2 separate regions of the Homo sapiens genome follow, and region 2 is linked to region 1. Evidence: fine-mapped expression QTL. A gene starts in region 1. The other region holds a variant in brackets. All regions are shown on one strand. Distances are from middle to middle. Region 1 holds the start of SNHG7 (small nucleolar RNA host gene 7). Region 2 holds the start of PAXX (PAXX non-homologous end joining factor).

What was found.
Region 2: its variant is fine-mapped to the expression of SNHG7 in adrenal gland (GTEx, PIP 0.98).

Annotation. Positions count from the first base shown.
Region 1 is chr9:136,724,493-136,732,806 of GRCh38, forward strand. It overlaps SNHG7 (small nucleolar RNA host gene 7), which reads right to left and starts at 3,692. Exons shown (of 5, transcript NR_024543.1): 1 at 3,389-3,692; 2 at 2,554-2,594; 3 at 1,819-1,924; 4 at 563-618; 5 at 102-447. DIPK1B (divergent protein kinase domain 1B) reads left to right here. Exons shown (of 5, transcript NM_152421.4): 5 at 1-250. LOC124900276 (cuticle collagen 2-like) reads right to left here and starts at 3,692. Exons shown (of 5, transcript XM_047424334.1): 1 at 3,389-3,692; 2 at 2,554-2,594; 3 at 1,819-1,924; 4 at 563-618. SNORA17B (small nucleolar RNA, H/ACA box 17B) reads right to left here and starts at 1,745; the gene lies at 1,612-1,745. It also overlaps SNORA17A. RefSeq lists silencers at 3,440-4,119, 4,273-4,442 and enhancers at 4,890-5,039, 8,100-8,314.
Region 2 is chr9:136,991,706-137,000,019 of GRCh38, forward strand. PAXX (PAXX non-homologous end joining factor) reads left to right here and starts at 717. Exons shown (of 7, transcript NM_183241.3): 1 at 717-857; 2 at 935-995; 3 at 1,220-1,269; 4 at 1,348-1,538; 5 at 1,638-1,706; 6 at 1,875-1,959; 7 at 2,061-2,271. The coding sequence starts at 739. The coding sequence ends at 2,100. CLIC3 (chloride intracellular channel 3) reads right to left here and starts at 4,863. Exons shown (of 6, transcript NM_004669.3): 1 at 4,806-4,863; 2 at 3,943-4,052; 3 at 3,737-3,862; 4 at 3,481-3,587; 5 at 3,225-3,400; 6 at 2,903-3,134. The coding sequence starts at 4,838. The coding sequence ends at 2,976. RefSeq lists silencers at 273-562, 573-952 and an enhancer at 910-1,452. The variant C/G (reference allele first, on the strand shown) is at 3,948.

The DNA.
Region 1 (8,314 bases):
CCTAGGAGAACAGGCAAGGACCCTCGTGGGAAGATCCCACCACAGCAACACCTTTCTTCAGGGCGGGCTCTGCTCCGCAATGTGTGAGTCAAGACAATCCATTCCATTCAAGACCAATTTACTCTCAAATTTTGCCAACACAGAAATATTATCCTTAAAGAAATGTGCATTTAAATCTTTTAATTCACTTCATCCTGTATTTTAAAATAAATGTTTTCCATATAGATTTTCCCCTTGGGGGGGAAAAGAATTCAGGGTCTTAGGTTCCAGGCAGTTCAAAAACAGCCACGCGGTTCTTTTTTCTCCACCAGAATACCACAATAGCAGAACTTAAGAATCGGGATATGAAAAGGGAGGCGTGGTCCTGGCAGTGGCCCCTGGCCGGCAGGAATACACAGCAACACCCAGGCAGGGGCAGCGGCTGCCCCCATGCCAGCCTGCCCATCCCTGTAATGACAGCAGGGCAGGAGATGCAGCTGTGGCCCTGGGGGCAGGTGGGCTCTGAGGCTGCAAACACCCTGAGTGCCAGTGGTCCCAGAGGGGGTGAGGCCTCTATCTGTACCTTTATTCCAGCCAGCCTCCTGGCACAGGGCTGGGCCCACATCCTGGCCTCTGCATCTGAAAAACAAACAAGGACAGTGATGCAGACCAGGGTTCTTTAACCCGGATTCACCAAATGACCCTCAGGGAACCCAATTTATGAAATCCCGAAACTGTACTTTTTTTTTTTTTTTTTTTTTTGAGACAGAGTCCCACTCTGTTGTCCAGGCTGGAGTGCAGTGGTGCGATCTCGGCTCACTGCAACCTCTGCCTCCCGGGTTCAAGCGATTCTCCTGCCTCAGCCTCCCAAATAGCTGGGATTACAGGCTTGCGCCACCACACCTGGCTAATTTTTGTATTTTTAGTAGAGATGGGGTTTCAGGCAGTTGGCCAGGCTGGTCTCGAACTCCTGACCTCAGGTGATCCACATGCATTGGCCTCCCAGAGTGCTGGGATTACAGGCCTGAGCCACCGCGCCAGGCCTCCAGAAAGTGTATTTTGAAGTTATCTTTCTTGATACTGTCTCTTAGCAGGAGTCTGACACTGGCACTGCTGACATTTGGGCCACATCACTCTTCACTACGGGGCGTCCCAGGCACTGCAGGACATGCAGCTGCGTCTTTGGCCTCTGTACCCCCATTGCTACCCATTTTGGGGAGAGGATTCCTGTTTCCAAAGTGACCCAGACACATCTCTGGGCAAGGCAGCTCCTGACCCCTACCCAGGGCCCTTCCTTTGTGCACAGGAGTTGCAGCCCCGCCCCCGCCCCCCTGGGATGACTAGTGCTGGACAAGGAACAGCCTGTTTATCCAGCTCGACTGTTCTTAATCAAACTTGCCTAAGGCCTCCCAGACAGACCTACAGAATCGTTTCCAGAACGAGGCCTGGGAGTGAGACGCACACTCCTGGTAACCCCACAAGTGCCCGAGCTTCAGATACACACACAGCTCATTTATACATATCTACACCTCAGGGTTCCCAGCGATGTTGCTGCCCCTCCCTCATGGAGCAAACCAGGTAAGGTGGTTTCCAAAAGCGAAAATCCAAATGCTGCCTGGCTTTGGTTGCAAGTAATGTCAGGCCATAAACCATTCTCAGTGCCCACTGGTTCCCGAGCACTGAGTGTAGAAATCGCCACTTTCTCTTTGCCCCGAGGCCACAGGCACAGCAGAGCAACTGTCTGTGGTGCCAACAGGTCCAGGACAGCATCCGCAGGGCAGCCGCTCACACGCACCCGGCAGGCAGGGAAGGAGGGCAAGCCTCCGCCTCACCTCTTACCTGGATCAGGGCTGGTGCTGGTCAGCCTGGTCACTCTGGCCAGTGCTCACACTGGAAGTCCATCACAGGCGAAGTCACCTCCTTCCCGTGTTAAATAACAAGAATGCTTGGCAAAGAATCAAGAACACAAGCGGCTGCCGTTACTGCTATTAACCGAGACGCCAGCAAACCCTTCCCCAGTCCTGTCCTGCGTGATCCTGACACGGTGTACGGCATGATCCAGCGCGTACCTCACCTGACCTGACCGATCCTCACAGGTTCTTAAAACTCACTCATGAAGGCTGCTCCTGGTGAAGGCACCCTCCACCTTCCCACTATCCCTTCAGACCCCTAGAGGCCAGCCTAGCCCAGCGCGAGAGTTAGAAAGCCCACTCACAGGGCCCACCCTCTCTCCCAGATACCAGCGAAGGAAAACAGATGCCTGTCCACAAAACAGGAGTGTGAGACTATCAAACATTCAAACGTTCACGGGGCAGAACGCTGAGCGTAGACATAGCCTCTCTAATCTCTGCCACCTAATGACACAGATGTGACACGGCAGCCACAGCTGCAACGCCTCTAGGGGCAGTGTCCTGTTGAAGACTAAATAATCCGTTTTTACTCCCCTGGAGACAGCTTCTAGCCTCAATGTGAACACAAGACCGACTGGTCCCTCCAGTCACTTAAGATGTTGCACAGGAGGGCTTAGTTACATTGGAGGATTGACCCTGTTCCAGCTCCAATGCACCAACTTACCCAACACCCCACGCACGTGTCATCTCCAGTGAGCAGACGTCCTAGAGAAAAAAAGAAACCGCAATTTTGTATAAATCTTGCAAACACCACAGAGGAGCATCACATAAACACTGCGTTTTTTGGGAGGCCGAGGCGGGCAGATCACTTGAGGTCAGGAGTTCAAAACCAGCCTGGCCAACACGGTGAAACCCGTCTCTCTAAAAAAAAAAAAAAAAAAAGTTAGCTGGCCTAGTGGCTGGCGCCTGTAATCCCAGCTACTCTGGAGGCTGAAGCAGGAAAGTCGCTTGAACCCAGGAGGCAGAGGTGGTAGTGAGCTGAGATCGCGCCACTGCACTCCAGCCTGGGCAACTGAGACTCTGTCTCGAAAAGAAAAAGACTGCGTTTTGCTGCATCTGGTCTCCAGGAAGGCGGACCAAAGAAGCTCCCTGCCACCAAAAAGCTCACTGTCACAAGGGCCGTTCTAGAAAAATCCGACCCATGTTACTCTCTCCCCTTACTCTACGCTTAATTTGCGGGAGGGGAAGTTGGAGTTACAACACAGTGGCCACGAAACGCGGGCTGCTGATCCCCTGCAGGTATCAAGGGACCAGGACCACGAGGCGGAATGCCCACCAGACAACCGAGCAGTCCTCCTCCCGCCAGAACAGCCTCCCGCTGAGCAGCCACAGTGACAAGGAAACCACCTGACGCAGCATAAGAAATCAATTTTTCAAAGATGCCGACAAACATCTTCCCACAGCCTGAGCGACTCAGGGAAGCAGCGGCAGGAGCGGAAGGGTCGTGGGTGAACGGGGTGCCTTTCTCTAAGATCCGAATTCGCGCACTCAGCTCTCACCAGGCTTCCCGAAGCTTCCTGGCTGGAAACCGCGCAGGGCCGGCAGCGCCCTCTCCACCAAGGGACACACCAGCGGCGCCTCCTCCGCGGCCCGGGCCCCCATCCCGCGGCTCGCGCGGCCAGGACGCCCCAGGTCGGAGCCTGCCCCCACCCCGCACCCGGAGGCCAGCAGCCCAGTCCCCTAGGCCGCGCAGCGCCAGCGAGAGCGAGGCTGCAGGGCGAGGCCCGGTGAGGCGCTCGAGAACTGGCCGGGAGGAGAAGTCAGGCGGCCCACCCGCCACGGCAGCCTCCGGCGCACGCAGAGGACGAGAAGGGAAGCGCCGCGCCTTTTATAGCGCGTACGGCGGCCCGCAAGAGTCAATCCGCCCCGCCCAAGCAGCGCCCCCCAGCGGTCCCCGGCCGTTCAGCTCCCCGCGCCCGCACGTGGGCGCTGCTCAGTGGCTGGCGGGCGGGCGTGTGGGTTCGCCACGCAGAGCAGCGGCAGCGCCGTGACCCGTGTCCTGCACCGCGACCGCCCCACGGGGCCAGCAGCCAGGGCCGCGCCGTTTCCGACCCGCCGGGTGCCGGGCACGCCACGGACACGCGCGGCTCCCCGTTTTCGCGGAGGATTCCCAGGCCGGGTCAGGAGGACGCTCCACGAGCCCGTGGGTCCCGGTGGTCCCAGCCATTGGGGCGGCTCCCGTGACTGTCGAGCAGCGCCCACCCCGGGCAGCATGGGGCTCCCGCGACGCGCTCCGTCCCTTCCCCACCAGGGGCTCTGCCGGTGTCGGCCATGGGCGCGGGTACACACCAGGCGCCTAATGAGTGCTGAGGCGGGCGAGGGTCCCGGCAGGCGGGATTACCGCGGCCAGGCCTGACTAGCGCCCTGTCTGCGCTGTGTCCTGGGACCTCGGTCACCGCGCAGGGCGGGACACCGAGGCCTCGCGGCCAAGCGACTCGCCGCGGTCGCCGGGCTGCGAACGGTGGAGCCGCCGGGACTCGGACCAGGACGCGAGCTCCAGAGCAGGGGATGACAGGCCTGAGCCGCAGGGGCCGGGAGGAAGGCCGCGCTGCTGTCCTGGGGCTGGGCAGCCTCCGCATTGCACAGCGCAGACCGCTCTAGCCTTAGGCCTGGAGGGGACACCAGGAGATGAGGCTTCTGGCTCAGCCTGCTCTCTGCAGCCACAGGCAAAGGCCAGGAAGGCCGGGGTGCGGGAGCTGGCATAGGAGCTGGCTCCAGCTCGGGTACTGGCTTAGAGGGAGCAGGAGCTGGTGATAAATTCAACTCAAATTTTCATTGCCTTTGCAAAGCCAGAAAACACCCCAGGGCTCCTAAGAAAAGCCCCAGCGCAGGACCCCAGGACACTTTGCAACTGGGCTGCAACTGCGCGGTCTGAGGCTCCTCCCTGTGTGGCCCCACCAGCAGGCTGGGTTCTAGCTCTGGTGTTGGGGCTGGAGCTGGCACCACAGCAGGCTCCACCTCCAGAGATGGTGCAGGCTCTGTCCTAGCACTGACACGGTTGTTGGAGACAAGCTGGCTCTGCCCCGGGGACCGATGCTCTGGAGCTGCCTCTAGCTGTGTTGCTGTTGCTAGTCTTTGCCCTGGGAAAAGTGTCAGAGCTGGTCCTAGCTCTGGATATGGTGCTAGAGCTGGTTCTTGATTGGATTTCGCTCTAGAGCTGGCAGGAACTCTGGCTCTCGTTCTGAAGCTGGTGCAGGTCTGAGATGGCTGTAGCTCTGGAGCTGCCTCTAATTCTGGTTCTGGTTGTGGAATCAGCCATCGCTTTATATCTGGTGCCAGCTCTGGCTCTGGAGGTGGTGCTGCAGCTGGCCCTTCCTCTGAACCTGGCACTGGCTTGAGGTCTACACCTGGAACTGGCTGAAACTCTGGAAGTGGTTTTGGAGCCGGTGCCCGAGCAGTCACCGGAGGTGGCACCAGATTTGGTGATAGAGCTGCCTCTGTTTCTGGAGTAGGTGGTAGAGCTGGTGCGGCAGCTGGAGTGAGATCTGGAGTTGTGCTGGCTGTGGCCATAGTTCTTGAGCTGGTACAGGAACCCGCACTGGTGTGAGCCGCGGTGCTGAAGCTGGGCCTGTAGCTGATGCTGGCCCTGGCTCTTTTTCTGAACCTGATGCTGATATTTGGCCCTAACCATGCAAATGGTTTTGGAACTGGTCCTGGCTAGAGGGCGGATGCTGGAGCTATAGTGGAGCCGGCACAGAAGTGACCAGAGCTGCCCCTGTCTCTGGGTGTGCTGCTGGAGCTGTTGCTGGAGCTGGCTCTGATCCTGGAACTAGCACCCGAGTTGTAGCCGGAGCTGGCTCTACCTTCTGAGCTGGTGCAGGAGTTGGCTGTAGCTCTGTAGCTAGTGAAAGCTCTAGCTGTGGAGAGAGGGCAAGAGACATCTCCTCCTTCAGAGATACTGAGTCCATTGCACCCGACCCAGCACTTGCTCCATGCTGCGGGGTAGATCTACCAAGCACTTACTGAAACCAGTATGCATAGCCCCGGAGCAGACCATGACCTGCTGAGACCCAGGAGAGGACCTGAGCCCCAGCACCTGAGAGAGGAGCTACCCCATGACAGTGGGGTACTTAGAAGGTGGAGATGTCACATCCCCTGCCCCAGGTCACATGACAGAGGTCAGAGGGTAGGTAGATGGCACTTCTGTGCAGGTCAGCCCAGGCTAGGTGCGGTGGCTCACGCCTGTAAGGCCAACACTTTGGGAGGCTGAGGCGGGCGGATCACCTGAGGTCAGGAGTTCATGACCATCCTGGCCAACATGGTGAAACCCTGTCTCTACTAAAAATACAAAAATTAGCCGGGCATAGTGACGCAACCCTGTAATCCCAGCTACTTGGGAGGCTGAGGTGGGAGAATGGCGTGAACCCGGGAGGCGGAGTTTGCAGTGAGCCAAGATCGAGCCTTTGCACTCCAGCCTGGGCGACAGAGCGTCTCAAAAAAACAAAAAAAAAAATTCTGGAGAAGATGATGGGGGTGATGGTCGCACGACAATGTGAATGTACTTAATGCCACTGGAGTGTGCACTTAAAAATGGTTAGGGCAGGCCGGGCGCAGTGGCTCATGTCTGTAATCCCAGCACTTTGGGAGGCCGAAGTTGGGCGTATCACCTGAGGTCGGGAGTTTGAGACCATCCTGACCAACATGGAGAAACGCCATCTCTACTAAAAATACAAAATTCGCCGAGCGTGGTGGTGCATGCCCGTAATCCTGCTACCTGGGAGCTGAGGCAGGAGAATCGCTTGAACCCGGGAGGCAGAGGTTGTGGTGAGCCGAGATCCAGCCATTGCACTCCAGCCTGGGGAACAGAGCGAGACTTTGTCTCAAAAAAAAAAGGTTAAGGCCAGGCCGGGTGTGGTGGCTCACGCCTGTAATCCCAGTCCTTTGAGAGGTCAAGGTGGGCAGATTGCTTGAGGCCAGGAGTTCCAGACCAGCCTGGGCAACACGGTGAAAATTAGCTGGACAAAATTAGCCAGGCATAGTCTGTAATCCTAGCTACTCAGGTGGCTGAGGTGGGAGGATCCTTTGAGCCCAGGAGTTGGGGGCTGCAGTGACCTGTGATTGTGTCACTGCACTCCAGCCTGGATAACAGAGACAGAACCTGTCTAAAAAAAAAAAAAAGGTTAAAACGGTGAATTTTATGTTCTGTATATTTTACTGCAATAAAAAATTTAAGGAAATTATTTATTTACTGCCTTAGTTTATTTGTGCTGCTATAACAAAATACCTGGGACTGGGTAAATTATAAAGAACAGAACAGTTCTGGAGGCTGGGAGGTCTGGGAACAAGGTGAGTGTCTGGCGTCTGGTAAGGGCCTTCTTGCTCTGTCCCGTAGCAGCAGAGCAGCCTAGCAGGATGCTGCTTCAGAAGGGCCTTCATCCCATTCACACGGGAGGAGACCTCATGGCCTAATCGCCTCTTCAAAGGCCCCACCTCTTGATATGTTCACACTGGCAACATCTGAATTTTGGAGAGGACACATTCAAACCACAGAACTTACCATTCAAAACAAAATAGAAGCCCACCAGGCGCGGTGGCTCACGCCTGTAACCCCAGAACTTTGGGAGGCCAAGGTGGGTGGATCACCTGAGGTCAGGGGTTCAAGACCAGCTTGGTCAATGTAGTGAAACCCCATCTTTACAAAAATACAAAAATTAGCCAGGCATGATAGTGGGTGCCTATAATCCAAGCTACACAGGAGGCTGAGGTGGGAGAATCACTTGAACCCAGGAGGCGGAGTTTGCAGCGAGCTGAGATTGTGCCACTGCACTCTGGCCTGGGCAACAGAGTGAGACACCGTCTCAAAAAAATTTTAAAAAAATTTAAAAACCCAACCAAAGAGGCCTGGCGCAGTGGCTCACGCCTGTAATCCCAGTACTTTGGGAGGCTGAGGCGGGTGGATCACCTGAGGTCAGGAGTTCGAGACCAGCCTGGCCAACATGGGGAAACCCCATCTCTACTAAAAATGCAAAAATCAGCTGGGCATGATGGTGCGCACCTATAATCCCAGCTACTCAGGAGGCTGAGGCAGGAGAATCACTTGAACCTGGGAGGCAGAGGTTGCAGTGAGCAGATATTGTGCCACTGCATGCACTCCAGCCTGGGCGGCAGACTGAGACTCCCTCTCAAAAAAAAAAAAAAAAAAAAAACCAAAACAAACAAAACAAAAGTGACAGCAACAGACAGCCCGCAGTCTCAGAACACCCACACTCTGTGACGACTCAGAATTTCTTCCAGACTTCACGGATCACCATTCTGGATAAAACAACAAATCAACTAAACGTGGACGCCTTCCCCTCCCTGCTTTGGCTGCCTTGTGGACACAGGTTCACACCAAGGTCATTACCAAGGGTTTGCATCCCCCCCAAGCTCTCCCCCCCACCCCCCGCCACACCCCTGAGGGTTGGGACATTCTGGAATTGCTTTGT
Region 2 (8,314 bases), 270 kb after region 1:
CCACCACACCTGGCTAATTTTTTTGTATTTTTAGTAGAGACGGGGTTTCACCATGTTGGCCAGACTGGTCTCGAACTCCTGACCTCAGGCAATCTGCCCGCCTCGGCCTCCCAAAGTGCTGGGATTACAGGCGTGAGTCACCTTGCCGGACCAACCGTAACTTCTTACGATTAGAGTTAGGAAGCTTCCGGTTTGTGTGTGAAGACGATGGAAGGGCGGGGCTCCAGGATGTATCCGCAGAGCCACGGAGGGAACCTGGACTCGGCTGGACTTGGAGCCGGGGCGGGGGCGGGAGGGGGCGAGGTTCGAGTGGGGCTGCTCGCGGGCGCGAGGGCCAGAGCCCGGGATCGCGCCGTGGAGCCCACGACCGGCGAGGCCAGCGCTGGGGGCAGGGCCTCTGGATCCCTGACCCAGGACGCCCTGCTCCGGCCCGCCCCGCGCACTAAACTCGGCCTCTAGTCGCCTGAAGCCCGCGCGGGTACCGGGTCCGCGCGGCCCGGCCTGTGCCTTTAGCCCCGCCCCGAATCCCCCCACCCTCATAACCCCGCCCCTAACCCCGCCTCCACACACAGACCCCGCCCCCAACCAGACTCCGCCCCGCGCAAGCTCCCTAAGCCCGCGACTGGCCTGCACCCGGCTCCGGAAGTCGTTCTTCCGCGCAGGAGCCCTGAGCCCGCACAGCCCCGCCCCTCCCGGCGCCCAAGCCCCGCCCCGCCGGGTTCCCGCTCGCCCGGCGCCATGGATCCGCTGTCGCCGCCGCTCTGCACGCTGCCGCCGGGCCCCGAGCCGCCCCGCTTCGTGTGCTACTGCGAAGGGGAGGAAAGCGGGGAGGGGGACCGCGGCGGCTTCAACCTCTAGTGAGTGGGGGTCCGCGGGGAGGTAGGGGTGCAGGGAGCTCCGCGGGCGGCCCCGCCTGACAGGCCTTCTCCCCCAGCGTGACCGACGCCGCGGAGCTTTGGAGCACCTGCTTCACGCCGGACAGCCTGGCGGCCCTCGTGGGTAACTGGGCGGGTCTGGGAGCCGCCACACCCCTCCTTGCAGTGCAGATCGTCTATGGGGCGACAGACATCTGGGATTCCCCAGAAGGCTCTGACACCCTCTGCCCGCCCTGTAGCTGTAGTCCTCCCATTGGCTAGGGCTCTGGGGTCGGGCAGGTTTCGGGTGCCCCCAGTGGGCCTCGGGTTCCAGGCAGCTCGTGACAAGCCCCTGTGCTCTCTAGAAAGCCCGTTTTGGCCTGAGTGCGGCTGAGGACATCACCCCCCGGTTCAGGTGAGACCCAAGCAGGGAGGAAGGACGGGTGGGGAGGAGGAGGGTCTGCCACAGCTCTCCGCACCTCTCCTCTCCCAGGGCAGCCTGTGAGCAGCAAGCTGTGGCTCTGACTCTGCAGGAGGACAGAGCATCCCTGACGCTTTCAGGGGGGCCCTCGGCACTGGCCTTTGACCTCTCCAAGGTACCAGGCCCAGAGGCAGCCCCCAGGCTGCGGGCGCTGACACTGGGCCTGGCAAAACGCGTGTGGAGCCTGGAGCGGCGACTGGCAGGTAGGATTGGGGGTGGGCACCTCATACCTTCACTGGGGTCCCCTGCTCTTGCCCCCACTCCTGGCACTGAGTGGGGTTCCCATGGGCTTTCCTCCCCAGCTGCAGAAGAGACAGCTGTCAGCCCGAGGAAGAGCCCCCGGCCTGCAGGGCCTCAGCTCTTCTTACCAGGTAAGGCATGTCCGCCTGTGACTCAAGTAGGGCTGTGCTCTTTAACCTGGAACTCAGTTTCCCCCCAAACAAGACTCACGCTCCAGAGAGAATGCCTATCTATTCGGAGAAGGTTGTGGTTGGGATGCTGCCAGGTTCAGGAGCTGCCCCTGTCCTGTTTTCCCCCAGACCCAGATCCCCAGAGAGGTGGCCCTGGACCTGGAGTCAGGAGGCGGTGTCCAGGAGAGTCGCTCATCAACCCCGGGTTCAAGAGGTACCCTCCCACAGCCCCCTTCCTGCGCCCAGGGTCCAATCCTGGACCCCACCCCTTTCTCCACACCATAGTGCCATAGTGACACCCCTCTTCCCTCCCAGTAAGAAACCAGCTGGTGGCGTGGACTTCGATGAGACCTGAAGGTGCAGCACAAGCGTGGCCCCGCGGGGAGTCCGCCTATGAGGGGAGAGGCAGTCTTTGAGGCCCCCATCAGAGACCCCCCGCCACCACCTCCACCTGCCTGTCCTGGGCCAGGACTAACACGGCTCCTCAAATTCCTTCCCTGTCAAATAAACAGCTCCCTTGGTTGGAGGCTCTGGTGGGGCTCTGACTCCTGGCACTGGCCTGGGAAGGGATCAGGGAACACCCCTGGGCCTGTGTTCTGGGTGTAGGGCCACAGGATGTGAACAGATGCTGCAGCCTCTCAGCTCCCTGGAGACTTCCTTGCTGGGCCGGAGGGAGGTGAGCACTCTCAGACCGTCCAGCTATTCCAGCCCTGCCAGCCCAGGAGCTGAGAGGGGCCCAGCCAGGCAGGGCCAGGGCTCCCCAAGGCTTAGAACTTTGTTCCCACCCTCCCAGGCCGCACCCAGGTAGGGCACGGAGCCCCGTGGGAGGATGCAGACAGAAGTCCCGTGTAGACCCTGAGACACTGGAAGTGCCCTGCGGGGAGGGGAGCGCCTGCCCCGGGACAGGATTGAGGAATGTGCCAGCCCCCATCCACCTGGGGCACCCCGCCCCACCCCGGCCTGACTGGTTTGGGAGCCCAGTCCGGTCCTGGAGATCCCTGAGGCCACCGGTTGCAGGAGGCCTGGAGTCTGCGCCTTCTTAGCGTGGAGGATGGGACCGGCCCGACCCCCGGCGCTCCTGCCCCTGTGGTTCTGGGCTATCGGGCTGAGCGTCCCACCCTGGGGTTTGGGGATGGGAAGTGATCCCGAGACCTCTGGCCCTTCAGATGTCAGGACACCCTCACTCCCGACAAAGATGCCTTTATTGGGCGACAGACGCGGGGTGGGGCGCTAGCGGGGGTGCACGGCGGGCCGGTAGGCCGCCAGGATCTCGGCGCTGTGCGGACACGTGTATTTGAACTCTTTCTCCTGCATCGCGCTGTCCAGGTAGCGGCGTACGCCGCGCAGCTCCGCGGGGATGGGCGCCTGGCGGAAGTGCGCGCACACCGTCTGCGGGCAGGATCGCGGGGCGCGGTCAGGACCTGCCGTCCCCCAGGCGCGCCGCGGTCACCCTCCCGCCCGCCCACCTTCCGTGCTCACGTCGACGATGTGCAGCTTGGGCAGGAGGCTGCAGTCGGCCAGCGTGAGCCTGTCGCCGTCCAGGAAGCGGCGGCGGGACTCGCGCAGCTGCGGCTCCCCCGCCAGCTCGTGCTCCAGGGGCGCGCGCAGGTAGCTGTCCAGCCTGGCGAGGGCGCGCAGCAGCTGCTGGTACAGGGCTAGGGGGCAGGCGGCGCGGTGAGGACCAGGCCCAGGGCGCCCTCCCGCCTGGGCACCCGACCCCCTGACCCCGCTTCACCTTCGTCCTGCGCGGGCACCGGGTTCTTGATGAACGCGGAGAACTTGTGGAAAACGTCGTTGCCGGCGGTGTTGGACTCCCTGTAACGAGGCGCCAGGCTGGGGAAGCTGCGGGATGAGGGGGTGGGACTCCATTAGACTGGGGGCAGCCCCGTCCCGGCCCCACAGTACCCCCACAGCGCCTTCCTGGGCTCTGTCTTGCGCGCGTCCTCCCTGGGCCCCCCTCTTTTCCCCTCCCACCCTGCCGGGGCTCTCACTCGGGCGGCCCCAGCGTCTCCTCCAGAAAGTCCTCGATCTGCAGCGTGTCTGTCTTGGCGTCGCTGTCATAGAGCAGGATGGGCAGCTGCGAGCCGGGGGCGAAGTCCTTCAGCACGTCCGGGGACCTGCGGGCAGCAGCGGGGTGGGAGGAGGCCGGCCCACCAGTGTGCGAGGCCAGGCGGGGGTCCACAGGATGGGGCCTCACCTGCG[C/G]GTGTCCACCGTGGTGAGGGTGAAAGGTACGCCCTTGAGGAGCAGGACCATGAAGAGCCGCTGGCAGGAGGGGCAGTGACCCACGCTCTCCCCGTCCTCACTCGCCTGGGTGGGTGGAGCGGGGGTGGGGGGTCAGGGCTGGAAGCAGACCCAGGCATCCTGCCGCCAGGCTGGGCGGGACCCGCCTCCCACTGCCAGTGGGATTGGAGGGACGCCAGGGCTCCAGCTTGGTCGGCGCGACTTCCAAGTGCCCAGTGAGGGCCCTTGACTTGGTCCCCAGAACGTGGGGAGGGGGGCAGAGCTGCTGGGAGCCTTGAGGCCTGGGGCAGGCTTGGCCCCTGGAATCTTGTCAGAGCCTGGACAGAGGCCAGGCCCCTGGGCTCAGTCCCCAAAAGCTGGTTGCAGGGGTGGGGTGGGCCTCACAAGCTGTTTTCTGAGTGATTCACACATGAGACTGGGCACTGTGGCCAACAGCACATCAGTCCCCCACCCCAGTCCCCGACCTGAGAGCTGATGGGGCTGCCTGGCCCAGCACCCCCCATCCTGGAACACCGACCGTAAGCTCCACTGTTGGCAGCCTGCTTGGTACCTCCCCACCAAGGAGCTCTCCTCCAGAAGACTGGGCTGGGCCCAGGAGCCAAGGCTGGGAGCAGGACCAGGGCCACTGACCCCTCTCTGGGTGACTCGCTGGGTCCCACTTTACTCAGCCTCTGTAGGGCTGCCTGAGTCCCCCTAGCCACCCACAGGAAGGGGCTCAGACATTACTGGGAGGCCCACCCCACAGCCTGCCACAGAAAGCAAAGCCCAGAAAAGCGCTTCCTCCCAGACACCCTCCCCGCAGCTGAGTCCGCCCTGCACCTTGACAAACAGCTGGAGCTTGGTCTCCGCCATGGTGGGAGCTGCCGCGGTCAGGCGCGGGTGGGGACCTGGGGAGCTCTTTAAGTCTCCCTGTGCGCCCCGCCCTCCCTGGCCGAGGGGCCCGCCCCGTGGAGCCACCTAGGCGGGCAGATGAAGCTGCCCAGCGCGCAGAACCAGCTGCCTGAGCAACGCCAGCCCGGCCCCGGGGTGTCTGAGCCTGAGGGTGTGACCTCAGGGTGGCGGAATGGTGTGGGGGGCTGCCCTGGACTTGAGTCTGGTGTGCACGGAGATCCGCCCACCCGGTACTGAGTGTGCTGGGAGCCAGCGTGGTGGGTGGAGACCAGGGGGCAGGGCATAGGGAGAGCCTACAGGCCAGAAGGGTGCAGGGGGTGTCACCTGGGAAGGGGGCGGCTCTGGGTCAGGACCACCTCCACCGTGAACCCAGCTCAGACCCTGCCCTATGGCTCTCCCTTCCGCAAATACCCCTTGTCAGGGCTCCCAGCCCAGAAAGCCAGTGGGTGTGGGTGAGCAGGAGAAATGGCCTGCCCAGCCTGGCTTCAGTTCCCCATCTGCAGCACCAGGGCATCGGGAGGGTGATAAGCCCACCTGGGGGAGCCGCCCCTTCCCAGCTACGGAGCAGTCAGGCAGGGCCCTCCCCGCTCAGGGCAGGGCTCAAATTCCAGACCTGCCCGCAACAGGGCGGGGAGGCCAGCCTGGCTTTGGTGTTTGGCCGGCAGTGCAGGTCTCCACCCCACCTCCCATCCCTCCCACTGGCGCTCAGCGCAGGTTTCTTACCCCCAACCCCTTAACCTTTAAAAAGAAGCAGCAGGAGAGGGGTTAGAAGCCACAGCCTGCGTGGCTGGAAGAAAGAGGCCAGGGGAGGGTGGTGGTCCACAGGTGTGAGCCTGCGCTGAGCCTCCTGGCGTGATTGGAACCCACAGTTCAGTCTGGCCCTTTGGGGTCGCCAACTGTGCCTTCCTCCCACCTGGCCCTGACGCTTTAGGGTGCAGCCCCAGGGAGGTACACCGAGGGGAGATTCCACCCAGAGACCTGGGGTGCCCACAGGATTGGCCTGGCCACACCTCCCCCAGGCGGTGTGGTGCCTCACCAGCCTGGACAGGGCAGCTGAGGTGGCACTGCTCTCCTGCTCACCTTCTCCCCAGGGCCTTGGTACGGGCCCCTCATCCGTCCCCGGTGGAACACACTCCAGTGCTGCCCCAGTCAGCCCAGCCTGATGCTTCTCTGGATACCACGCCAGTCGGGGCTCCTGGACACAGAGCCTTGGAAATACCATGTGGCTGCCCCATCCTTTGGTGTCCTGAACCTCAATTTCCCTCCATCCGGCCTCCACCTCGATTCCAAGCCCTAGTATTTCAGCTCTTTCTGGACACTGTGGTTATAGCTCCGCTTGCTGGTTTCCCACATCCCTGGCAGGCAAATGGCCAACCACAGAGAAGCCCCAGGCCCCCAGCCCCCTCTGCTGCCCCGGCATCCTGTGTCTTTAACACCGACAGACGCACCCTCACAAACCCACAGGAAAAATGACGGCACGGACAGAGGCCGTGAACCGGTGGCTCAGAAGGAAAAAGAAAACAAGACACAGGAAGACCATTCACCTCACGCCCGTCTCAAGAAACAAACCAACAAGACTCGGTTCACCGCTGCAGCGGCCCCACTGCGTTCTGTGGGCGTGGGCTGTGGACTGTGGAGCGGCAGTGGCCATCCAACACCCCCCTGTGCCCTCGCCACCTGGGAATCAGCCCGGTGGCTTCCTTTTTTTTTTATGGTTTAATCAATTCATTTATTTACTAGAAACAGGGTCCTGCCATGTTGCCCAGGCTGGTCTCCACCTCATGGGCTCAAGTGACCCACCTGCCTTGGTCTCCCACAGTGCTGGAACTACAGGCGCGAGCTGCCACACCCGGCCGGTTTCCCTGTGAAGGGCAAGTGAGTGCTGGCTGCCCCACTGCGTGGCGTGGCGTGGCGTGGCGTGGCTCCGTGGCACGGCCACCACCCTGTCTATGGGAGACTCCAGTTGTGTCCAGGGAGAAGGACGGAAAAGGTGACTCCATGCATGCCCACTGCAGGGAGGGCCTGAGATTAGGTAAATGGCGTGGCTTGTGTCCCCTTAAATTTAAATTCTTAGGCTGGAGTCCTAACCCCTAGTGCCTCAGAATGTGACCTTATATGGGCCGGGCACGGTGACTCATGCCTGTAATCCCAGCAGTCTGGGAGGCCGAGGGGGGTGGATCACCTGAGGTCAGGAGTTTGAGACCAGCCTGACCAACATGGTGAAACCCCGTCTCTACTAAAAATACAAAAATTAGCCAGGCATAGTGGCAGGCACCTGTAATCCCAGCTACTCGGGAAGCTGAGGCAGGAGAAGTGCTTGAACCCGGGAGACAGAGTTGCAGTGAGCAGAGATAGTGCCACTGCATTCCAGCCTGGGCAACAGAGCAAGACTCCATCTTGGAAAAAAAATAAAGAATGTGACCTTATGTGGAAACAGGGGCTTTTTAACATTTTTTTTGAGACAGAGTCTTGCTCTGTTGCCCAGGCTGGAATGCAGTGGTGCAATCTCGGCTCACTGCAACTTCTGCCTCCTGGGTTCAAGCAATTCTACTTTCTCAGCCTCTGGAGTAGCTGGGATTACAGGTACACGTCACCACGCTGAGCTTTTTTTTTTTTTCCTTGTATTTGTAGTAGAGACAGGGTTTCACCATGTTGATCAGGCTGGTCTCGAACTCCTGACCTCAGAAGATCTACCCACCTTGGCCTCCCAAAATGCTGGGAATACAGGTGTGAGCCACCGCACCCGGCTGAAATAGGGTCTTTATAGAAGTTATCAAGTTAAAATGTGGTGAGTAGGATGTGCCCTGATCCAATATGACTGATGTCAGTATAGAAAGGCGAGTTTGGACACAGATGCACAGGGAGGGCCGCAGGCAGAAATCAGGGTGGCACATCTGTAAGCCTGGGAGCCAAGCGGATGCTCTCCAAGGCCCTTGGGAGGAAGCAGCCCTGCCCAAGCCTAGGTGCTATGTCTGACCTCCAGACTGCTAGGCAGTGAGCTTCTGTTTTTTTTGTTTTTTTTTTTTAATGAGATGCAGTCTTGCTCTGTCGCCCAGGCTGGAGTGCAGTGGCACAATCTCGGCTCACTGCAAGTTCTGCCTCCCCAGGTTCACGCCATTCTCCTGTCTCAGCCTCCCAAGTAGCTGGGACTACAGGCGCCCGCTACCACACCTGGCTAATTTTTGTATTTTTAGTAGAGACGGGGTTTCACTGCGTTAGCCAGGATGGTCTCGATCTCCTGACCTCGTGATCCGCTCGCCTCGGCCTCCCAAAGTGCTGGGATTACAGGCGTGAGCTCCCGCGCCCCGCGGTGTTGTTGTTTTAAGATGGAGTCTCACTGTCACCCAGGCTGGAGTGCAATGGCTCAATCTCGGCTCATTGCAACCCGCGCCTCACCGGCTGAAGCGATTCTCCTGCCCCAGCCTCCCGAGTAGCTG